Linked DNA regions of Homo sapiens: all the other regions are linked to region 3. Evidence: fine-mapped expression QTL. A gene starts in region 3. Each other region holds a variant in brackets. All regions are shown on one strand. Distances are between the middles of the regions.

What was found. PIP is the estimated chance that this variant, and not a neighbour inherited with it, causes the effect.
Region 1: its variant is the best candidate, but not a certain one, in a credible set for the expression of ERV3-1 in whole blood (INTERVAL, PIP 0.71).
Region 2: its variant is the best candidate, but not a certain one, in a credible set for the expression of ERV3-1 in anterior cingulate cortex (GTEx, PIP 0.65).
Region 4: its variant is the best candidate, but not a certain one, in a credible set for the expression of ERV3-1 in whole blood (INTERVAL, PIP 0.83).
Region 5: its variant is the best candidate, but not a certain one, in a credible set for the expression of ERV3-1 in whole blood (INTERVAL, PIP 0.63).
Region 6: its variant is the best candidate, but not a certain one, in a credible set for the expression of ERV3-1 in monocytes (BLUEPRINT, PIP 0.88).

What each region holds. Positions count from the first base shown.
Region 1 is chr7:64,856,389-64,860,480 of GRCh38, forward strand. It overlaps a transcript of ZNF138 not described here. Among named protein-coding and RNA genes, the nearest start is that of ZNF273, 45 kb to the right of the region's middle. The variant T/G (reference allele first, on the strand shown) is at 1,929.
Region 2 is chr7:65,048,297-65,052,388 of GRCh38, forward strand. It overlaps the pseudogene CCT6P3. Among named protein-coding and RNA genes, the nearest start is that of SNORA22C, 16 kb to the right of the region's middle. The variant G/C (reference allele first, on the strand shown) is at 1,989.
Region 3 is chr7:65,004,818-65,008,909 of GRCh38, forward strand. It overlaps ERV3-1 (endogenous retrovirus group 3 member 1, envelope), which reads right to left and starts at 1,870. Exons shown (of 2, transcript NM_001007253.4): 1 at 1,724-1,870. It overlaps ERV3-1-ZNF117 (ERV3-1-ZNF117 readthrough), which reads right to left and starts at 1,929. Exons shown (of 4, transcript NM_001348050.2): 1 at 1,724-1,929. It overlaps LOC105375330 (a long non-coding RNA gene), which reads right to left. Exons shown (of 6, transcript XR_927607.1): 6 at 3,857-3,894. RefSeq lists an enhancer at 1,801-1,860 and a silencer at 1,961-2,130.
Region 4 is chr7:65,083,682-65,087,773 of GRCh38, forward strand. It overlaps the pseudogene GTF2IP14. Among named protein-coding and RNA genes, the nearest start is that of SNORA15B-1, 15 kb to the left of the region's middle. The variant G/A (reference allele first, on the strand shown) is at 1,912.
Region 5 is chr7:64,742,946-64,747,037 of GRCh38, forward strand. No RefSeq gene overlaps it. Among named protein-coding and RNA genes, the nearest start is that of ZNF138, 49 kb to the right of the region's middle. The variant C/T (reference allele first, on the strand shown) is at 2,459.
Region 6 is chr7:65,222,651-65,226,742 of GRCh38, forward strand. The region is part of intron 1 of LOC124901661 (a long non-coding RNA gene); the gene reads right to left. It also overlaps the pseudogene INTS4P1. Among named protein-coding and RNA genes, the nearest start is that of ZNF92, 150 kb to the right of the region's middle. The variant T/C (reference allele first, on the strand shown) is at 1,739.

The DNA of each region.
Region 1 (4,092 bases), 150 kb before region 3:
GCCCGGCAGCCACCCCGTCCGGGAGGGAGGTGGGGGGGTCAGCCCCTGCCCGGCCAGCCGCCCCATCCGGGAGGGAGGTCGGGGGTCAGCCCCCCGCCCGGCCAGCCGCCCCGTCCGGGAGGTGAGGGGCGCCTCTGCCCGGCCACCCCTACTGGGAAGTGAGGAGCCCCTCAGCCTGGCCAGCTGCCCCGTCCGGAGGGAGGTGGGGGGGTCAGCCCTCCGCCCGGCCAGCCGCCCCGTCTGGGAGGTGAGGGGCGCCTCTGCCCGGCCGCCCCTACTGGGAAGTGAGGAGCCCCTCTGCCCGGCCAGCCGCCCCGTCCGGGAGGGAGGTGGGGGGGTCAGCCCCCCGCCCAGCCAGCCGCCCTGTCCGGGAGGGAGGTGGGGGGGTCAGCCCTCCGCCCGGCCAGCTGCCCCGTCTGGGAGGTGAGGGGCGCCTCTGCCCGGCCGCCCCTACTGGGAAGTGAGGAGCCCCTTTGCCCGGCCAGCCGCCCAGTCTGGGAGGGAGGTGGGGGGGTCAGCCCCCTGCCCGGCCAGCTGCCCGTCCGGGAGGTGAGGGGCACCTCTGCCCGGCCGCCCCTACTGGGAAGTGAGGAGCCCCTCTGCCCGGCCAGCTGCCCCGTCTGGGAGGGAGGTGGGGGGGGGTCAGCCCCCCCGCCCGGCCAGCTGCCCCGTCCGGGAGGTGAGGGGCGCCTCTGCCCGGCCGCCCCTACTGGGAAGTGAGGAGCCCCTCTGCCCAGCCACCACCCCGTCTGGGAGGTGTGCCCAACAGCTCATTGAGAACGGGCCATGATGACAATGGCGGTTTTGTGGAATAGAAAAGGGGGAAAGGTGGGGAAAAGATTGAGAAATCGGATGGTTGCTGTGTCTGTGTAGAAAGAAGTAGACATGGGAGACTTTTCATTTTGTTCTGCACTAAGAAAAATTCTTCTGCCTTGGGATCCTGTTGATCTGTGACCTTACCCCCAACCCTGTGCTCTCTGAAACATGTGCTGTGTCCACTCAGGGTTAAATGGATTAAGGGCGGTGCAAGATGTGCTTTGTTAAACAGATGCTTGAAGGCACCATGCTCGTTAAGAGTCATCACCAATCCCTAATCTCAAGTAATCAGGGACACAAACACTGCGGAAGGCCGCAGGGTCCTCTGCCTAGGAAAACCAGAGACCTTTGTTCACTTGTTTATCTGCTGACCTTCCCTCCACTATTGTCCCATGACCCTGCCAAATCCCCCTCTGTGAGAAACAACCAAGAATTATCAATAAAAAAATAAATTTAAAAAAAAAAAAAAAAAAAAAAAGAATTTTATTTTATCAGTAAATTTAGAGAAGAATTAAAAAAAAACAGTGCTTTGGGCAAAATAACAGTGGCACATCAGTACCACCCAAACAAGTGCTTTTCATCATCATCGTTAAAGTCGCAATAGCACCACATGCTTTCCTGGGACCAGGTGGCCTGTTTCCCACTGATATAAAGTGGAGACAGCATTGAAATAGCAAAGGAGGGTGATATAAATTGGATACCTATATAAAATACAAATTTTAATAAAAAGCGTTTGATATTGTAGAACTATAGATGAGACTATTAGTATGAGATCATAATATTTTTACTTCTTTTGACAGAACAACTTCACAATATTCTTATTTCAAAAAATATTCCTTTTTCTGTGCATATTGCCTAGCTTTTGGTCAAATATTACCCGAGCTCCATAGAAATCAATGAAATGAATCTATATTTTGCCACAAGCATTTTATTTCTGATGAATATGCTTGTTTTGCTTAAAATACATTAGCTTTTCATGAAAAATCTACACTTTTCTTTCAGGGTTTTATTTATTGCTGAGAAGTGTCCTGCCAGAAAACTGCTATTCTCAGCTCTACTTACATTGACTAATAGTGAGTGGAAGTGATGTGTGGATAAAAAGCAAATGTGTC[T/G]TTTCTACATCTCTTTGTTAATTTATTCACAGAAGAAAGAGGAGGATGCAGATAGAAGATGAAAGAAGACATGATTACTAAAAAATCATGGGGAAGTCTTTTTATCAAGGAAAAAACCATAAGGGATAATGTGAGAAGAAAATATATTATTTTGCTAAGCCTCTGAAATGTCAGTATACAATCTGCATTGCTTTAACAAATATATTATTCCTTCAGTTTTGAGTCTTCAGGATATGATTCAGTTCCCCAGTGAATCAAAACTACAAGGAGAATAACATTTGTTAAGGTAATAGATGTAGGGAAGACCCATTATGTTTGGCCAAAATCTTTTTCACCCCCTGTCGCAGGCAATCATTATTCTACTCTCTGCTTCTATTAGTTTGAATTTTCTTTTACACTCTGCATAGAAATGAGATCTTTTTAAAAATTTTTTTCAATGCTGGCTTATTTTACTTAGCATAATGTCCTTCAGGTTCAATAAGCTTTTTGCAAATAACAAGGCTTTCTTCTTTTTAAGGGCTGAATAGCATTCCATTGTGTAAATATACCACATTTTCTTTATTCATTCAACTGTTGATGAACATTTAGGTTGATTCCATATCTTGGCTATTGTGGCTTTCTTCTTTCTCTTTCATTTTTTTATATCTTCTTTTTTATTTCTAGTGCAGTGATGTGATCTCAGTTCACTGCCACCTCCACCTCCTGGGTTCAAATGATTCTTCTGTCTCAGCCTCCCAAGTAGCCTGGATTACAGGCACACACCACCACACCTGGCTAATTTTTGTATTTTTAGTAGAGATGGTGTTTCACCATGTTGGCCAGGCTGGTCTTGAATTCCTGACCTTGTGAACCACCCACCTCAGCCTCCCAAAGTGCTGGGATTACAGGCATGAGCCACGACGCCTGGACAACTTTGTCATTTTTAGTGATACTCAGATATGTTCCATTGCAGAAAATTGTATTTTATTAGTTATTATTGTGTTTTTTGGACTCATCTACATGGGATGAGTCCTAAGAGATTCAGTTTAAAAAAGTTTTTTTAGGTACATTAAGGACATTATTTATCTTTTGTAACCTGTTCATGTCTATGTCTGTTACTTGCATCAGGCAGTGACTCAAACAATTCTCAAAAAACAGAAAGTATATTTCTCTTAAAGTTGGCTTATTAAGGGACTATGAGGTGATCCAATTCAATAAGAACCAAACTAGACCTACTAAGATTAGTCAGGACTATCAGAGAATTTTTCAAATACATTCACCATTAATCCAGAGATAATTGTGAATCCCAACTTTTACCCTAAGAAAAATTATTGCAATGTAGTAAAGTTGATTCTGTCTTTAAAAAGAAAGAGGAGCACAATGAGATTTCCTGTGGCCAGTTGAAGTTCATGAAGTTTGTCAAAGAATTTCACATACATAGTAAATCTTCTGATAGCATTTAGTTCCAATCACAATAAATTATACTTGTCTCTGTCTTCTATAATTAATCTCTTCTCTCTTTAAAAAACTCTGTATTTTCTGTATAAAAATAGTGATTATTGGCTGTGCACGGTGGCTCACGCCTGTAATCCCAGCACTTTGGCAGGCCAAGGTGGGTGGATTACGAGGTCAAGAGTTTGAGACCAGCCTGACCAACATGGTGAAACCCCATCTCTACTAAAAATACAAAAATTAGCCAGGCATGGTGGCACGCACCTATGATCCCAGCTACTCAGGAAGCTGAGACAGGGGAATTGCTTGAACTCGGGAGGCGGAGGTTGCAGTGAGCCAAAATCATTCCACTGCACTTCAGCCTGGTGACAGAGCAAGACTCTGTCTCAATATAATATAATTATACAATTATAACATCCTAAGTATGTATTTGTTGGGTACACTGTCATATTTTTATGTTTATGCTGTAAAATGTTTAAATCAAGCTAAGTAACAAATTCAGCACCTCACATACTTATTATACTTTTGTGGCAAAAACATTTAAAATATTTTTATACCAATTTTGAAATATACACTGCATTATTATTTATTATAGTCAATATTCTGTGCAATTAATCACTAAATCTTATTTCTCCTAAGTGAAACGTGGTACACTTCCATCAACATTTTTTCTTTCTTCAACCACTTCTTCCCCAGCCTCTGTTACGTTTTTACTTACACTAAGTTACATTAG
Region 2 (4,092 bases), 43 kb after region 3:
TCTCTACTAAAAATACAAAATTAGCCGGGCATGGTGGTGCATGCCTGTAATCTCAGCTACTCGGGAGGCTGAGGCAGGAGAGTTGCTTGAACCCAGGAGGCGGAGGTTGCAGTGAGCCAAGATCACGCCATTGCACTCCAGCCTGGGCAACAAGAGTGAAACTCCATCTCAAAAATAAAATAAAATAAAATAAAAAGTAAAAAAGCACACACAAAAAAGTGCATTTAGAATATTTGAGAGAAAATAAGCAAAAGGAAGAAAATGTAAATTATCTATAATGCTTACACCCAGGACAACAATCCTTGGAATAGAGTGTCTCACTTTGTATATAGAAATGAAACTTTTAAAATGCCATTTTATTTTTTAATTAAAATTTTTTCTTTCCTTTTTTTTCCTCAGAGTTAGAAAGGATAAAAATGTTATTGATTAGTAAGACTGTATCTTTATGTTGATATTTTGAAATTTTAGGCTAGTGCTTGTTTGTTCATATAACATTATATAAGCACATTCAGTACTATTAGAACTGTTGCATTATGCAATAACATGACTGCCTAATGCATATATCAGGATTAGTACATATTGTAAAGTTTTTATTTTTTACCAAAATGTTTACGACTACCAAGTATTCATTCCTTAACACTATTACATAATTAATTTAGAAATGTTTTACTTTTAAAACTTCTGGATAGGTGTAATTAAATTCTTAGATAGCGTTAATGTACTATTTAAAAAACACACACAAAACATTATCATTTGTAAAACATGCTTTATCATCTATTCATCTTTGTGAATCCGGTTTTTCTTGATACCATGCCATCAAAACAAATTTGACATAAGACTGCCCAATCATCCATAATTTAAAGTTGGTGTTTGTCAGAAGAATTTTATTGTTCTCATTATACATGTTATACATTTGAGCTTTTTTTTTTTTTTTTTTTTTTTTTTGGAGATGCAGTCTCACTCTGTCACCCAGGCTGGAATGCATGCAGTGGTGCCATCTCGGCTCAATGCAACCTCCACCTCCCAGCTTCAAGTGATTTTCCTGCTTCAGCCTCCTGAGTAGCTGGAACTACAGGCACGTGCCACCATGCCTGGCTTTTTTTTGTGTGTATGTTTTTACTAGAGATGGGGTTTCACCATGTTGGTCAGGCTCGTCTCGAACTCCTGACCTCAAATGATCCACCCCCCGCCTTGGCCTCCCAAAGTGCTGGAATTACCGGCATGAGCCACCACACCCGGCCACGTTTGAGCTTTGAAATACATTGATAGAATAAAATACTGCTTTATTCTTTTTTTGTTTGTTTTTTGAGATGGAGTTTCACTCTTTAACCCAGGCTGGAGTGCAGTGGCAGGATCTCAGCTCACTGCAACCTCTGCCTTCCAGCTTCAAGTGATTCTCCTGCCTCAGGCTCCCGAGTAGCTGGGATTACAGGCACCTGCCACCAAACCCTGCTAATTTTTGTATTTTTAGTAGAGATGGGGTTTCACCATGTTGGCCAGGCTGGTGTCGACCTCCTGACCTCGTAATCTGCCCTCCTCAGCCTCCCAAAGTGCTGGGATTACAGGTGCAAGCCACCACACCCAGCCTAATCTGTTTCTTATGTTATAGATGCACATAAAATTTCATTTAGAAAAATGTTCTTGTACTACAATATTTAAAGCTATTGAATTATGATTCATAAGTTTTATTTTGTAGTTAGCATCTCTAGGGGAATTTCAGGGACACTGTTGGCTGTCTTGTGATTACCGATCCTTTTAAAAACTCGTTGTATTTGAGAAGTAAAATAGTAGAATATATATGACAAAATCGGGAATTAAAGTAGACAGTATACTCAATTCCACTGTGTTTAAAGAGTTTGATTAATTTCTATACATTGTGCCAGTGGTTAAGATCTGGGACTCTAGAGTCAACCTGAGTTGAAATCTTGGCTCTGTCACTTGATCTCTTGTCTCAGCTTCTTCCTCCATAAAATGAGGGTAGTAATAGC[G/C]TTAACTCATAGGATTATTGTGAATATGAAGTGTACCAGTACATGTAAATAGTCCTGGTGTCTGGCATAAAGGTACTCATAAAACATAGTTACTATTATTTTAGAACATGGTTTAGATCTTCCTGTATGTTTAATTTGTCTTTTCCTCACTTAACATATCACGGCAGGGCACGGTGGCCATAATCCCAGCACTTTGGGAGGCTGAGGCAGGTGGATCATCTGAGGTCAGGAGTTTGAGACCAGCCTGGCCAACGTGGTGAAACCCCATCTCTACAGCCTGGCCAACGTGGTGAAACCCCATCTCTACTAAAAATACAAAAATTAGCTGGGCATGGTAATGCACACTGATGGTCCCAGCTACTTGGGAGGCTGAGGCAGGAGAATTGCTTGAACTGGGGAGGCAGAAGTTGCAGTGAGCCGAGATCATGCCATTGTACTTCAGCCTGGGCGACAGAGTGAGACTGTCTCAAAAAAAAAGAAAATATTACCACTATTTTCCCATGTTGTTAAAAATTCCACCAGTAATGGAAGAGAATATTGGGTGCCCTGTGCCCTTGCCAAATTGGGCATTCTCATTTTTTAGATATTTGCCAATATGATTTATGAAAATTGTCATGTTATTGTTTTGATTTGCATTTTCCCCAAGCATCAGCAAGATTTAATGGTTTCACATTTAAAAAATTTATTTTTTAATTTATAATCACCTTGTTTGATAATGAGGTTTTCATGTTTTTATTAACTGTGTTTCTTCTCCTGCCTGGATAAATTTTAGAATTTTTCACATCGATTTAGACGAATGCTAGTACAAAGGTTTTTTTAAGTCTATGATAATTTTAATGATTTTTCTTGGTAATTTTTGTCTGTAGATTCAAGTTCAGACAGGCACTTCCCATTCTGATATTGTGTAAATATATGTAATTTGTTAGTTCTGAAAAACATGACTTCTTTAACCTCCTAGAATGTAGTTTACTGGGTGTTACATGAATCTACAACATAATTTTTGTACAGACAAAAATTTTGCATTTCTTCTGGATATTGCCTGTTCATACCTTTGCCCATTTTTTCCCTTTCTGGGTTGTTTATCTTTTCTTCTTATTGCTTTATAGGAGTTCTTTAGATGTCACAATGGTTAATCTTTTGTTATATGTGTTACACATTTTCTCTTCATTTGTTATTTGTCTTTTAATTTTGTGTTATGGTGTCTTTACATAGAAGTGTTAACTTAGGTGGTCAGATCTTTCACTTAAAAAAATTCTTCATTATTCAACTGGAAAATCTTTCACATATTTATAGTTTTTTTTTTTTTCTGGTTTAGCAAAATCTCTACCATCCCAAGATTATCTTTAAAATATTTTCATATACTTTATATGAAAAAATTTTTTTCACACTGAGCTCTTTTAGTTTGTATGGAATTTCCTTTTGTATCTAGTGTAAGGGTAGGGATCTAAATTTTTCCTAAATGGATAGGCTTTTGCCTCTCTCAGTTCATTGACTTGTTCATATTTCAAATGCCACAAGGCTTTTCTGCATACATAAGGCCTCTTTCTGGATTCTCAGTTCTGTTCCAGTGACAGGTCGGTCTGTGTTTATTCCATTACCACCCCTCCCCCGTGGCTTTTTATAGAAGTTTGATATCTGATAGGGCAAATATGCTCATTTCCAAATTTTTCTTTGCTATTGTCATGAATTTACTGTTTCCGGTGAATTTTAGAATAATTTTGATGAGTTCTAAGACAAATCCCACTGAGATTTTGATTAGAATTGTGCTAAATTTATAGACGAATATGGGAAGGAGTCAGTTCTCACTAGCAGGTCTTTCCATCAAGGAGCATATTGTATCTGTTTATTCTGGAATTGCCTCTCTGATAACGGTTTTAACTTAGATGCTCATTGTGGCATTGTTTTGTTCTAAACACATGTATTACAAAGATAGTGTTAGAGTAAATTAGTTGAGGGAAAAGCCTTATATCATCTATCCCTGTTTTCATTTCTCTTTTCACCTTTACTTTTGGTCTAAAGAGTCTTTATCATGATATATGGTATATGTATACTCAGGTTCTTGTAATAATCGGCAGTATATTATGATCTCTTTTTCTTATAGTCA
Region 3 (4,092 bases):
GTGCATTTCACTTTGCAAGTTGCTGCACCATCTCACTGGGGCCAGGTTTGATTTTTTTTTTTTTTTTTTTTTTGTCTTTTGGGATACTATTTTCTCTTTCATAATTCTTGGAGAATCCAGGTGGCAGTAATTATTTGTTTTTCCCTCATTACCACCATCTGATTGGCTGACCAGCAATGTGTCTTCGAGAAATGGAACCCGGGTTGCTTGAAGACAATCTTAACTTCTCTAAGGGTTTGCTTTTCAAAGGAAGAGTACCCCAGGAGACTCCTCTCAGCCTCAGGGCATCCACCTGCTCCCTTGAGAGGCTACACTCCAACTTCAGGCTGTCCTGTCTCCCATTCCCAGATATGCGAAGTTTCATTCCAGGCCAGGAGCTGAAATTTACTAGACATTGTAGCATACACAGCCACAGTGGATATCTTGATTTATCCCCAGACAGTACTGAAACCCAGAACCAGGGAAAAAACTGAAGGGTGGCTGAGGACACATTACCTTATAAAGTTTCCAAAGGGAAACCCTGACCCAAAAATATTCTGATAAGGTTTCTGTGGCTAGAGGCAATAAAAGGAAAGGAGGCACAGAACATTTTTTACAATACAGTGTCAGGGGATTATTCTTTGCTTTCTTCTCTTGGGAAATCTTTACAAACAGAAAACAAATCTTTTTTAAAATGCCAGCCAATGCTTTGTCAAAAAATGATTAATTAAAATATGGTACCTAAAATGTACACTAAAGTGTACATTAAAGGACAAATAGTTGATAATGTGAATTAGGGAGGGGAAATTGGCATTTGGGAATGTCAGAAGGAACTGGAAATTTAGTATTTTACTGCAAGCCAGAGTTAGGCTGGAGGAATGGGAAATGGGGAGAAGTCTTGAGACCCTGCTTGAGACAGAAGTGAAAAATGCAGAGGAAAATCAGTGCCCTGTGGAGTGTGAAAATAATTAAGTGGCAGGCAATTAGACTGAGGTGGCTCCAGTCCTAGGGTTGCTACTTGCAAAAAAATCTAACTCGAATGATTTTTTTCTAAAGTATTACATTGGGGGAAAATAAAATTCAGGCTTAACCAACTATAAACTGCCAATTAACCTCTCATTACATGACCAGGGAATTTCCACCTTGATCGTACAAATTAAGAAACTACATAACTTTACCTAACCAATTATTGAATTTGCTTTCCTTTATCATGCACTTTATAAAAGTGTTTTCTTCAAGCCCCTTCCATAAACCACAAACTACAAAACATAGCTTGGTGCTCTACAATTCTTGAATTACTCTTTAATTAAATTCTTTAATATTTCTGCGGAGACTTCCACAAATTTTTAATAGAAAAAAAGGGGGACTGGGAACCCCGCAGACCAAAGCTCTTCCCATTCATGAACTCTGCATCCTGAGTCAGTATTCTCCCCTGACGACCGTCCAGTGGTCCCTGCACAATCGGGGAGAGCTGCGGCAGTGGGGGCAGAGCTGCCCACAGAGGACTCCAGAACAAGGCACAGTCACTGCGCAGGGAGGAGACAGGATGCCCGGGGTCCGAGCTGTCAGCCCGGCCGCCATCCTATGGCTGAAGGGGACTGAGGGCCGAGCTGCGCCAAGGAGAACTCGGGGCCGCGGATTTTGGAGCCAGCTGCGGGGAGGCCAGAGTCCCGCCACAGCCACTTCCCACCAGTTCCAACCAGCCCCGCCCCCTCTCTCGGGATGTCGGACCCGGCACTCTCACCATTTCTAGGCTTCCAGTGGGTCCTGGCGTCTTAGCTGTGGATCTCCCAATACCTGCAGGTAACGAGGCCACAGAAGCTGGGCCTCTAGGAGCAGAAGACACAGAGCAGTGAAGACTACACCAGAAGCTCCGGCTGCCGCCAGAGACAAAGGCCCCACCAAACCCGGAAGCCGTCCTGTCTGCTCCAGCTGAGTGCCTGATTGGACGGGTCCCAGCCCAGCGTCCCTGATTGGATAATGTTTAGGGCCCCACCCTCTCAGGCCTTGATTGACAGAAGACGTGCTCAGATGCTGGGCTGAATGTAGAGTGAACCCTAAGCCTTTTCAGGCAGAGCTTCCTCCCTGAGCTGACCCAGGCCCTCCCCAGACGGCATTTGCCTTGTAAGGCAACCGTCTGAAATAAAATGTGAGCCATGTGTGAATTCTAAATTTTCTAGTAGTTAAGAAGAAAGAAGAAACAGGTGAAATTCATTCTAACCATTTAATAACCCAATATATCCAAAATATTATTTTAGTATAGGAGCAATATGTAATTATTAATGTAGTGTATATATTCTTGGAACTAAATCTTTAAATCTAACCCTGTATTTTACCTTTCTAGCACATCGCAGTTCAGACCAGCCATATTCCAGCTATCCTGTAGCCACACATGGCCAATAGCCACCACATTGAAGTGCAGCTCTGATTTCATACTTCCTCTCTCTCTCTCCTCAAACCTCCTGTGCTTCCTTCCCTCCCTCCCTTCTGCTAAGCTGATGCTCACTTCTCCAACGTTACTAGAAGCCCTCAGAGTGAATGTTCTTATCTTCCCACCATCCACCGACTGTGTCTCTGTTCCTTCCACTGTCACTGTGTAATAATTGCCCTTCTGCGGCTGGGCATGGTGGCTCATGCCTGTAATCCCAGCACTTTGGGAGGCTGAGGTGGGAGGACTGCTTGAAGCCAGGAGCTTGAGACCAGCCTGGGCAACATAGTGAGACTCCATCTCTACAAAAAAGTTTAAAAATTAGCCATGGGCTGGGTACGGTGGCTCACGCCTGTAATCTCAGCACTTTGGGAGGCTGAGGTGGGCGGATCACCTGAGGTCAGGAGTTCAAGACCAGCCTGGCCAACATGGTGAAACCCTGTCTCTATAAAAATACAAAAATTAGCTGGGCCTGGTGGCGTGCACCTGTAATTCCAGCTACTTGGGAGGCTGAGGCAGGAGGGTCACTTGAACCCAGGAGGTGGAGGTTGCAGTGAGCCAAGAACGCACCATTGCACTCCAGCCTGGGTGACAGAGCGAGACTGTGTCTCAAAAATAAAAATAAAAGTTAGCAAGGCGTGTTGGTGTGCACCTGTGGTCCCAGCTACTCAGGAGGCTGAGCTGGGAGGATAACTTGAGCTCACGAGTTCAAGGCTACAGTGAGGCATGATTGGGTCACTGCACACCAGCCTGGGTGATGGAGTGAGACCTTATCTCTTAAAAAAAAAATGTCCTTTTGATTTATGAAGCCTCGGCCCGGCCTGAGCTGTGGTTCCTATTCCTTCTGGCTTTCCCAAGCTTTTCTTGCCCACTGGAAGTTTCACTGGAGGGTAGAGGACTGGCTCTGTAGTTGGGGACCTAATTGATGCTCTGTTTTCTGTAAAGAGGAATTTTTCTAATTGTCACTTAGCAGGGAGCCTGGCTAGGAATGGAATCTGGGGGCATTACTATTGGTTTACCCTCCTGGGGACCCCTCATCTTTGGTCCATGCATATTCTCCTTGGGGTGGCATCCTGTAATTAATGATCTCTTACATATCACAGCACCTCGAAGCTCCCCCAGACACATCCTCATCCAGCCTCTCACTCTGATGCCATCATTGTCTAGGGACACCTCCGCATAGGTCCATACCATGTCTCAAGCTGCTCATCTCAACAACATTTGTGCTCTAGGAGGTGGAGGTGCCCTAGGGGGCTCCTCACCAAGGGAGTGGGCAGGTGATCCCAGCACTTTGGGAGGCTGGGGCAGGTGATCCCAGCACTTTGGGAGGCCGAGGCAGGTGGGTTATTTGAGGTCAGGAGTTCATGATCAGCCTGACCAACATGGTGAAACCCCATTTCTGCTAAAAATACAAAAAAATTAGCCAGGTCTGGTGGTGCATGCCTGTAGTCCCAGCTACTCAGGAGGCTGAAGAGAATCGCTTGAACCTGTAAAGCGGAGCTTGCAGTGAGCCAAGATCATGCCACTGCACTCCAGCCTGGGTGACAGAGTGAGATTTAATAAAAGTGTATGCATTGAATCCATTGGGAGGTTTATCTGTTGGGGGAATGGGAATAACTGGGAATCACACAGACAGAGAGACAGGAGTGGGGCCTTCCATGGGGCCATGATGCCGTGGCCCGTGG
Region 4 (4,092 bases), 79 kb after region 3:
AGCTTAAATATTTTTTCCAATCTAAGCTTAATTATATTCCCTTTCTTCTATATTTGTATAACTTCAGGTGACTGTCTTTGTTGAAAGTTTTTTCTGAAAAGCCTTAAAACAATATAGTTATTGGCAGCAATTTCAGAGTTACTTGAGGGCAAGGGAAGATTTATAATGATGATTCAAATGAAGCAAACTAAAAAGTAATGAAGCAAGACAGAGGATAAAGCAGTATTCACTTGAGCACATCCCAAAAGAATAAAATTTCAAATGTAACTAGAAAAAGGCATGCTAAAGATCATAGTACAGGAATAATTATTAATATTCAAAATAGCTTTAAAGCTGCTCACCTTTTGAATGTTGGGAATTGACCAGGAGGTGGCTGTAACCTAGGATTGTTCCTTCATTAATGACCATTTTCTTTTTCAACATGATGATGATTCTCCACCTTCTAAGAGACCAAAGACCAACGAACTACCACAGCTGGCAGGCAGTGACACACAGCCTGTTCCGGAGCCTGCCAATGATGGGCAGTTCCGGAACCTGCCAATGATGGGCAATGGAAAGTGAGGGAGTTCAACTCTGGTAAGTTCTCAGTGAAATCCACAACCTTTTCCCTCATCTTCTGGACTCTCAATGTGGCTGATGAAAGTTACAACATGCTCATCTGCAGGGGGAAATGCTTTAGCATGTATTACTATGTTATAATCTCACCTTTGTAAAGCCAGGAGCTTTTTGAAAGTCACTTTATAGCCATTGTTTAAACATGGTTTGAATTTACCAAAGCATAGGACGTTGTTTCATCTCATATTAATTAGTTGGCTCAAAATTAGTGCTAATGACTTAGTAATTCAATGGTTTCTCTTAGCTTTAAAACTTTCTTTATTTCAGAACTATTTCACCTGTTGGTTTTCGTTTTTGCTGTGTGTCACTGCCTGCCAGCTGCTATTGTGTTAACTCCCAGTGGATCATGTGTCCTGTGAAGGGACTGAATGAGATATTAATGGCAAATTATGTTGATGATTCATATTTTGAATATAAATAGATCATTAAGCTTGTATACATTTTGAAAATAGTATGTTAATATTCTGTTGTGTCATAGTCACAATGATTGGCTACATATTGAATTTATATGTACATTAAGTTGTTGTATGTTTATGTTCTTTAACATTCTAACTTGCAACTGTATATCTGTTAAGTCTTTTTTTTTTTTTTCGAGAAGATCAGACTCTGATTTATTGAGGCATCTGTTTGATGCCAAGTTAAGTGGCCCAGGCTCTGTGTAGGGGGTGAGGTTAACGCAGGAAGAAAGATGGTGAGGGGCAAGGGTGCAAGGATTATGTTGGAATGAGGCTCCCCAAGTTTCCCTGGCCCTGGCTGGTTGTGCTGCTGGCCTGAACATCTGATGAGCTTGCAAGGGTGACTCCGAGAGGTGGGTGGTCCAGGGGCTAGGGCAGGGATTTTGGAGTCACGCTGTTGGCTTTGAATCCAGACTCCTACACTTGGTAGCTGTGACCTTTCCATGCCTCAGTGACCTGCAGAACTGAGCTCTGTCTGAGCCAGGTCCCATCCAGGCACTGCAGATCCATCCAGAGTTAAACCACCCCAGGTTGCTGACTATCTGCTGCCTTCTCAAGCAGATCCTTGTCTCCTTGGAGGCCTTCACAATCCAGTGGAGGAGGCGAAACTCATCTGCCTCTGTCCCTCTGGGTGCGCCTCATGCCAGGTGCATCTGTGGGCACGGGCCATGCTCCTGGGCTTCCAAAGCTGGAGAAAGTTGCCAGGCTCAGGTGGCTATATCAGAGCAGCTGCTACCCTCTGGACACAGTGACAAAAGAACACTCTGGGCCTAGAGTCCTGGTCTGGGGCACTGGGCAAGGCTCTTGCACCTCTCTGAGCCCGTTTCCCCATCTGGAAAGT[G/A]TGCTGATTGAGTCTCCCTTTGGGCACTGAGGGCTCAGTGTTAGTTTGAGAGCCAGCATCTGGGGTTTGGGCTGTAATTCCCCTTCAGCCCCATAGCTGGGGGGAGACAGGGACTTTGTCGGGATTACCCTAGGCATCAGTCCAGCTTCCTGCTCCTGGCTTGGGCTCAGCATCTGAAGTAGTTTGGGGGGCAGGTGGTCCTGGTGGGGGTTGGGGCTTTTCCCCAGACTTAGGTCACACCCAGAGCCAGAAATCTTGGCACCTGCTCTAGGCTAAGGATGCATCTGGCCCCCAGGGTGCAGGTAACTGCCCACCTTTCCTGGTTTCTGCCTGCCAGGGCCAATCTTCAGACCTCAGGACTTCCCAGCCTATCCCATCTCCCTCTCTGGCCAGCCTTGAACCCTCGTGGGTCCAGCACTTTTTCCAGGCCGTCTCCTGGTTGTCCTCCTGCCCCGAGGCCTGGCTCATGCTGCTCCCCCTCCCACTCACCATGACCCACAAGGACCACTCCACACCCAGCTCAGCCCCAACCCCTTGGATAGTCCTTTCTCTTTCCTCAGGTGACCAGGTGCATATCTTGGTGTCAGGACCTTCCCTGCACCTGGGAATGCCTACTGGTCACCTCGGTCACAGAGACCAAGGCATTTACTTGATATGGGTGCCTTTGGTTCATTGTCTACATGGCCAGGGAGGGAGTCAATGTTAGGCTTTTCACTTGCTGCAAGGGCCAGTTCTCCTGGCCCCATGGCCCTAGGAATGGAGGATGCTGCAGGATACACACCCCTCACTTCCCAGCTGAGTGCTGTGGGTCATCTCAAGGCGATTTCACAGTCCCACATGCCCCACCCCCTCAGCTCTGCAAATACCAAGCAGCACAGCCTACCTAAGGGACAGTGGGCTCAGGACTGCCCAGGTGGGCTCAAGACTGCCCAGGTAGTCCCCAGAGTGCCCTTGGCAGGCCCCTCACCTAGCTGCTCCCACAGCTCTGTAGCAAGAGTCTAACCTTTTTTGAGTGTGGAGCCTGCTGAGAATGAGAGCTGTGGGCTGTTTTCCCGGAAACGCATGTGCACACTCTCCACACAAAACCTTGCATCGTTTCAGGGGGCTCACACCTCCCTAAGGGCCCAGTTATTGAACCCCTCGGACCTGAGAATGAGAAACCTTGCCTCAATAGAGTCTTGCTCTGTTGCCCAGGCTGGAGTGCAGTGGCCCAACCTCAGCTCACTGCAACCTCCGCCTGCTGGGTTCACGCAATTCTCCTGCCTCAGCCTCCTGAGTAGCTGGGACTACAGGTGCGCACCTACCACTCTCAGCTAATTTTTTGTATTTTTAGTAGAGATAGGGTTTCACCATGTTGGCCAGGATGGTCTAGATCTCTTGACTTCGTGATCCGCCTGCCTCGGCCTCCCAAAGTCCCAGGCATGAGCCACCACGCTGAGTCAGGGTCCCTCTTAAACTTGTATTTTTAAGGTCTGGTGTCCCTCTTACTTAATCTTTTTTTTTTTTTTTTTTCTTTTTTGAGACAGAGTCTTGCTCTGTCACCCAGGCTGGCAGTGGCACGGCCTCGGCTCACTGAAACGTCCGCCTCCTGGGTTCAAGTGATTCTCCTGCCTCAACCTCCTGAGTAGCTGGGACTACAGGCACCTGCCACCATGTCTGGCTAAGTTTTGTATTTTTGGTATAGACGGGGGCGGAGGCAGGGGGTTGGGGAGGGGAGGGGGGATTTTGCTTTGTTGCCCGGAGCTCGAAGTGATCTGCCCACCTCTGCTCTCAAAGTGCTAGGATTACAGGCCTGCACCACTGCACCCAGCTGCTGTAAAGCCTTATTTCCACACAGCTGAGACATGTTTTAGGAAGTTTGCGAAAAGGCCTCTGGAGACCTCCTCATTGTGGCCTCCCTGTTGTCGTGTTTAATTTGATTGATCTTTTCTGCCCTCCTGCTTTTCAGAAATTAAAGGCTAAAAAGAGGCATTAAACTTTAAAACTTCTCTTGTAGTCTCCTATTAAACTAATTCTAAGAACCACCAAAAAAGGGAAAAATGTTTTCGAAAGCAGTAAAATGATATGGACTGTTAGTATGTAAAATATAGGAAATAAGTCATTATATATTAGTGCTGCTCTGACATAGGGACATATTATTGAGAATCAACTTTTGCTCAGTTTTCAGAGAAATGGAATAAT
Region 5 (4,092 bases), 260 kb before region 3:
GCCTGGCGCAGTGGCTCATGCCTATAATCCCAACACTTTGGGAGACAGAAGCAGGCGGGTCGTGAGGTCAGGATTTCGAGACTAGCCTGGCCAATATGGTGAAACCCTGTTTCTCTAAAAATACAAAAATTAGCCAGGCGTAGTGGCGTGCATCTGTAGTCCAAGCTACTCAGCAGGCTGAGGCAGGAGAATCGGTTGAACCCAGGAGGTAGAGGTTGCAGTGAGCCAAGATAGCACCACTGCACTCCAGCCTGAGTGACAGAGAAAGACTCAGTCTCAAAAAATAAATAAATAAATAAAATGAAAATAAAAAATAACTGCAGTAAAACACATCTCTGAACATTATTTTCTTTTCCACAACTGTTTCTTTACATGTAGGATTCCTCTGCCAAAATTTTTTCATTCTTTTCTTAGCCATTCTCAGTCAGGATTATTTTTCTGACTGTACAGAGAGACTGTAACTGAGCAGGTGCAATTTCAGCAAAGTCTTGAAGAAGATAGGCCTCGGCTGACCAGGTAAACTCTAAGCAATTGTAAATAACTATCTTTTAAAGGTGTATAATTTTTATTTTATATTGATTTACCAGGACAATCACCATTACAAAAAAATCAATTTAATTACGCCAGGCATGGTGGCTCACACCTATAATCCCAGCACTTTGGAAGGCCAAGGTGGGTGGATCACCTGAGGTCAGGAGTTTGAGAACAGGCTGGCCAACATGGCAAAACCCCATCTCTACTAAAAATACACACACACACACACACACCTGGGTGTGGTGGCAGGTGCCTGTAATCGCAGCTACTTGAGAGGCTGAGGCAGGAGAATCATTTGAACTTTGGAGGTGGAGGTTGCAGTGAGCCAAGATCACCCCATTGCACACCAGCCTGGGCAATGGAGGGAGACTCTGTCTCAAAAAAAAAAAATCAATCTAATTACAATATATCTAGAGATTTAACCCACATCTAAATGTTAAATTGACACTACAATATAATATTTAAATCTGCAAAAAGACATTAGAACATGTGGTCAATAATACCATGAGCTGCCACAAGCTTTTAGCAGATAATACAAATGACAATCACCTCTTTATGCCCATACAGGAGAAAAACATACTTGTGCATCTCATATATATCAGAAAAGAGAAAAATGCAGAATTCAATTTGCGGAAAAAGGTTGTTTATACCAGATATATACATTTTACTGATGGTTGTCCAGTATAATTTTTAAGTTTTCTGTATTACATTTTACCAAATATATATAATCCTGTTGCTCACAAGAGAGGAGCAAAAGCTAAACTATTCAAATGGTCATAAGAATTTTTGGAAAATAATATATCGTTAAAAAGAAGTTGAAAGTGTAATAGTTGACCCCTTAGGAATCTTAAATATTCCATTTAATTGCACTTAGATGGCAAGAGCTGGAGTTTTGATTAAGTTGGCCAATTCAAAATCCTCCAGAGAGAAGTTATCAGGTATCAACATTTAAGGCAGATTTTATTCATTTAAAGCATCTTAAGAAGTAACGGAAACTGCAGAAATTAAAGAATTCAGGGCCGGGTGTGGTGGCTCATGCCTGTAATCCTAGCACTTTGGGAGGCCAAGGTGGGTGGATCACCATAGGTCAGGAGTTCAAGACTAGCCTGACCAATATGGTGAAACCCTGTCTCTACTGAAAATACAAAAATTAGCTGGGCGTGGTGGTGTGCGCCTGTAGTCCCAGCTCCTCAGGAGGCTGAGAGAGGAGAATTGCTTAAACCCGGGAAGCGGAGGTTGCAGAGAGCCGAGATCATGCCACTGAACTCCAGCCTGGGTGACAGAGCGAGACTCTATCTCAAAAATAATAATAAATTAATTCAGGATTTCCACTAGTAATAAATTATATTGAAAATGTTGTTAGATTGTGTTGGCCATTTGACAGCTGCTATTTATAACTGTTTCATAAGCCTGCTGAGTCACAGGGGCAGATAAGCAATCACTGTTGTTTACATGTTCCTTTTCAGGCAGCTTTTATTAGCATGCAAATATTATCATCTTCCCAACCACAGACCCCAACATGCAAGATTTTACTTTGTGTCCAAAGGGACAGCCTTGCTTGGTTGCTTACAATCATCATGGTCATAAAGACAAAGTCCCAGTTCCCTGATACCTCTGCTTTCCAATCTGTGCATGAGACAGCCTTTGTGAGGCCCAGCATGGCCAGCTGTGCCTCTCCTTTCTGGTGGAATGTATTAAACACCTTTTAATTGCATTCACCTCCTTTTAATGTGTTAACATCCAGGCGAAATTCATGAGGCCTGCTTTAGAAAAATCATGTTGCAGGCCAGCTGCGGTGGATCACGCCTGTAATTCCAGCACTTTGGGAGGCTAAGGTGGGTGGATCACAAGGTCAGGAGTTCAAGACCAGCCTGGCCAACATGATGAAACCCTGTCTCTATCAAAATATAAAAAATTAGCCAGG[C/T]GTGGTGGCAGACACCTGTAGTCCCAGCTACTTGGGAGGCTGAGGCAAGAGAATTGTTTGAACCTGGGAGGCAGAGGTTGCAGTGAGCTGAGATTGCACCACTGCACTCCAGTCTGGGCGACAGGGTGAGACTCCATCTCAGAAAAAAAAGAAAAATCATGTTGCTGTGCTTTGTTATCAAAAATAATATGGAGGTGGAAGCGCAAAGCAAAAGTAACCAAAACATGGATAGTACTAATTTGTATTTGAAAGTGTATTTGTGAAATATACTTTTACAGAAATATCTTTGCTAGGATGTCAAGGAAGAGGTCACAAAACATCAACTCCAAAATATTCACATAAATTTAACAATTTAGAGATGGTTGTTACTTTTTGTTCTAGATTATTTCTACTTTCAGTAAAGCAAGTATTTATTGTAATACAGAAGCATTGGAAAATTAACACTAATATAACTAATGTCTGAGTCCTGAAGACTTTCCTCTGGAACCTCAGTAAATTTACTTAATCTAAATGGGTCCAGGTGCTGAGGTGATTACCCTTATCTTGTCTCCTGCTGAATCACGGAGGTTAGGGTAGTTCCTTCAGACCCCCAGTAAACTTGTTTGTGGAGGCCTGGGGGTTTCTTCAGACCCACAAAAAAGCTCATTTAATTCTACATAGGTCCTGTTAAGAATTCCTTCATTATTTTGTCATGCTGTAAGGCCCAGGAAAGGCCTAGGGAAAACTCTTCGTGGGCTTTTGTTACATTCCAGCCTTTGTATAAGGGCACTGGTTTTTTTTTGTGGGGGGGGGGGTGTGGGGGTGCTGAGGTTCACTCTTGTTGCCCAGGCTGGAGTGCAATGGTATGATCTCTGCTCACTGCAACCTCTGCCTCCCAGGATCAAGCGATTCTCCTGCCTCAGCCTCCCGAGTAGCTGGGACTACAGGCATGCACCACCACGCCTGGCTAATTTTGTATTTTTAGTAGAGATGGGGTTTCTGCATGATGGTGAGGCTGGTCTCGAACTCCCAACCTCAGGTGATCCACCTGCCTCAGTCTCCCGAAGTGCTGGGATTACAGGTGTGAGCCACCATGCCCAGCCAGGGCACTATTTTTTAATATTTAACTGAACCACTCAGTCAGTACTGAAACAGTTGTTTTGGAGGCCTCTATTAGTAAGAGCTGGACTGCCACAATCCCTACTGTCAATTCATGCATGATTTCTGTCTTGCTTGTGTATTTATTTATCACAAGAATTGGAGGGAGATGAGGGGGTCATAATCCTTCTGGATACTTCCTGCAGAGAGGGGGTCATTGTTATGGGGCACTGAATGCAGCGCTGGAGTGGAAGAGGTCAATTTGTTTCCTATAGCACTCTCTGTTTTGGGGGCTTAGAGGCAGCACCTTCTGAAACATAATAGTATGCAACAGAAGCACGCATAAATAGGTTGCTGCTCTTCTGAAGTTTAAGTCATCTAGTCTTTAGTTCACAGGGCTTTAAGAAAGCACAGCTTGGGTTTTAGTGATTTCTTATTAGGAAAAATGGGGAAACAGAACAATATAAAGCAAAAAGTTAAAAACATTATTTTGGAGACTTGTAGCCAGAAAAATTAGAATTTAATCCAAACTGTAGAAAACAATAAAATTTGAAAAA
Region 6 (4,092 bases), 220 kb after region 3:
CTCCAGCCTGGTGACAAAGTGAGACTCGTGAGACTCTGTGTCAAAAAAAAAAAAGACCAAAAAAAAAAAATTATGTCGTCTTACATACCAGGACTTTTTCTCCAATTTATGTGCATAGCACTGATAACTGAGTGGTTCTCATAGGTAATTTTACTTGGACCACAGAGTTTATTTAAAGAGCACATTTAAAAAATTTCAGTACTTGCTGATTTAGCGTAAAAATGTGGCAGAGTATTTTTCTGATATTCAATTAATTTTTGTCTTGCCTGGGCTCACAGTTTTATGAATCCGTCTTTTCATGGGAATGCTCATGATCCTTACCCAGTTCAAACAATATGATCCTAAAATTATCAGAAACAGGACTCAACTTGTCTGGTCACTTTCCATCTTTTCATGAACCTCCTAAAGACACAATACTCTGGGATTTTGTGTGCTTTTGAGGTTTTTAGAAACTAAATAAGAATTAAACCATTAACTGTGAAAATTACTTAAATGGTTATGAAAAAACAAATAAAAAATTGATTATATCTGTTGCCTATATTTGTTCATAATAAACATAATTATGACTAATAGCATATAAAGAGATATATATTAGATTTTTAGAAATTCTATAAAATTTTGGAATAAATATTAATAACATATTCATTAAAATATAAGTTGAAGGAGGTCAAACATCATTTTTTTTTTTTTTGAGATCGAGTCTCACCCTATCGCCCAGGCTGGAGTGCAATGGCATGCTCTCGGCTCACTGCAACCTCCACCTCCTGGGTTCAAGTGATTCTCCTGGCTCAGCCTCCCAAGTAGCTGGGATTTACAGGCATGTGCCACCATGTCCAGGTAATTTTTTGTATCTTTGATAGAGACGGGGTTTCATCATGTTGGCCAGGCTGGTCACGAACTCCTGACCTTGTGATCCACCTGCCTCAGCCTCCCAAAGTGCTAGGATTACAGGTGTGAGCCACCGCGCCTGACCCAAACATCATTTTTAATTTGACCGTGCTTCCCATGCAATTTAACATATCAAATAATCCTGTTTATCACTCTCTTGGATGTTGCATTGGCTCTCTGTAGCATCTAAAAGTTAGGGGTCAAAAACCAATAATTTTAAGGTTGGGCATCGTGGCTCATGCCTGTAATCCCAGTACTTGGGGAGGCCGAGGCCAGCGGATCACTCGAGGTCAGAAGTTCGAGACTGGCCTGGCCAACATGGTGAAACGCCATCTCTACTAAAAGTACAAAAATTAGCCGGTCATGGTGGCACACGTCTGTAATCCCAACTACTTGGGAGGCTGAGGCAGGAGAATCTCTTGAACCCAGGAGGTGGAGGCTGCAGTGAGCTGAGATCAGGCCACTGTACTCCGGCCTGGGCAACAGAGCAAGACTTTGTCAAAAAAAAAAAAAAAGTCTTTTTTAAACAATTTCACTCTTGTTGCCGAGGCTGGAGTGCAGTGGCGTGATCTTGGGTCACTACAACCTCTGCCTCCTAGTTTCAAGTAATTTTCCTGCCCTAGCCTCCTGAGTAGCTGGGATTACAGGTGTTTGTCACCATGACCAGCTAATTTTTTGTATTTTTAGTAGAGATGGGGTTTTACCATGTTGCCCAGGCTGGTCTCAAACTCCTGACCTCAGGAGATCCACCCATCTCGGCCTTCCAAAGTGCTGGGATTACAGGTGTCAGCCACCATGCCCGGCCACAAAAAGACAATTTTTAAGCTGAAATTTGATTTTAGAAAGACTG[T/C]CAAATATGTCAGAGGGTTAAAATACTTGACCAAAATAGGATCACAGGTCACCGTAAAATAATAGTCATTCATTTAGCCAAAGTGATGATTAAAAGATTTTTAAAAACAAAACATTTTACTGTTTGATGCAGGAGATTAAGTTTTTCAATCAAAAATCTGAAAAAAGGCAGTATGAGAAAAATTCTACCTCTCTTTTAAAATTTATTCAAAAGGTAAACAAAAATACATTACTGTGTCATATTAATAATAATACATAAAATTTTGTTCAAAAGAAAATCAGCTTTTACTTTTGTATTAGTATATTATCAATACTAAAGTTAATTTTGGTGAAACTTTAAAAATAAATCCATCAAATATATTATTTTTGTCCACTCTAGATTTCTGTACATATTTTATAATATTTTTAACTTCTAATATTTTAATCTACATTCATCTTATTTTTTCAATTTGAGACAACCTTTAAGTAATTTCAAACTAGACAAAATGTTTCTAACTTTCTTCATGAAAGCATGCTTTGTTTTTGTTTATACACTCTCTATACCAAATTGTTATTCCTTAAATCTAGTAGTTTTAAATATACATATTAATTACATTAACTCTGAGCAACCAAATTTTTAGTGAAATTTCCAGGAAGTAATTTTGAATGTTTTGTACCATTATTTTTAGATAAAAACCATTTTGTATTTTAATAAAAATATTTTCTCAAATTTTCTGTTAACTAACAGATCTAAATATATTTAACTTTTCTATATCATGTAAAAATAAGATTCTAGTCATGCATGGTAGCTCATGCTTGCAATCCTAGCACTTTAAAAAGCCAAGACATAAAGACTGTTTAAATCCAGGAATATGAGACCAGCCTGAGCAACATGGCAAAACCATATGTCTACACATAATACAAAAATTATTTGGGCATGGTGGCCTGCACCTGTAATACCAACTATTCAGGAGGCTGAGGAAGGAGAATTGCCTGAGCCCGGAAGGCTGAGGCTGCAGCAAGCCATGATCAAGCTACTACACTCCATCCTGGGTGACAGAGGGAGATCCTTTCTGGGAAAAAAAAAAAAAATTGGCCAAAACATATAAACTTAAACTTAGGGAGTTGTTTGTGTTTTTTGTTTTTATCATTATTATTTCAAAAGAGGTGGTGTTTGGTTACATGAATAAGTTCTTTTGTGGTGATTTGTGAGATTTTGGTGCATCATCTCCCCAGCAGTGTATGCTGTACCCAATGTGTAGTCTTTTATCCCTCACCACCCCCCGCCCTTTCCCCAAGTTTCCAGAGTCCATTATGTTACATAATTCTTATGCCTTTACATCCTCTAGTTTAGCCCCCACTAAAAAGTGAGAACATACAACGCTTGGTTTTCCATTCCTGAGTTACTTCACTTAGCATAATGATCTCCAACTTTATCTAGATTGCTGTGAGTGCCATCGTTTTCTTCCTTTTCATGGCTGGGTAGTATTCCATAGTATATATACATATACCCTATTTTCTTTATCCAGTCGGTTGATGGGCATTTAGGCTGTTTCCATATTTTTACTATTGCAAATTGCGCTGTTATAAACATGCGTGTGCAAGTGTCTTTTTCATATAATGACTTATTTTCCTCTGTGTAGATACCCAGTACTGAGATTGCTGGATCAAATGGTAGTCCAACTTTTAGTTCTTTAAGGAATCGCCATGCTGTTCTCCATATTTATTGCACCAGTTAACATTCACATCAGCAGTGGAAAAGTGTTCCTTTTCATCACATCTATACCAACTTTTTTTCAATTATATATAAATATATATAATATGTAATATATATTTTTATATATATTATATAAATATATTATATTTATATATTATATTTATATATTATATTCATATATTATATTCACATATTATATTTGTATATTATATAAATACATATTATATATTATATATTATATTTATTATATAAATACATATATATTATATTTATATATTATATAAATACTTATATTTATATAACATAAATACATATATATTATATTTATATGACATATAAATACATATTATATATTATATTTATATAACATAAATACATATTATATATTATATTTATATAACATATAAATACATATATATTACATTTATATAACAAATACATATATATTATATAACATAAATACATATATATTATATAACATAAATACATATTGTATATATTTCTATAATATATACATATTGTATATTATATTTATATAGTATATACATATTGTATATTGTATTTCTATATTATATACATATTGTATATTTATATATTATATAAATACATATATATTTATATATTATATAAATACATATCATATATATTAATATATAAAT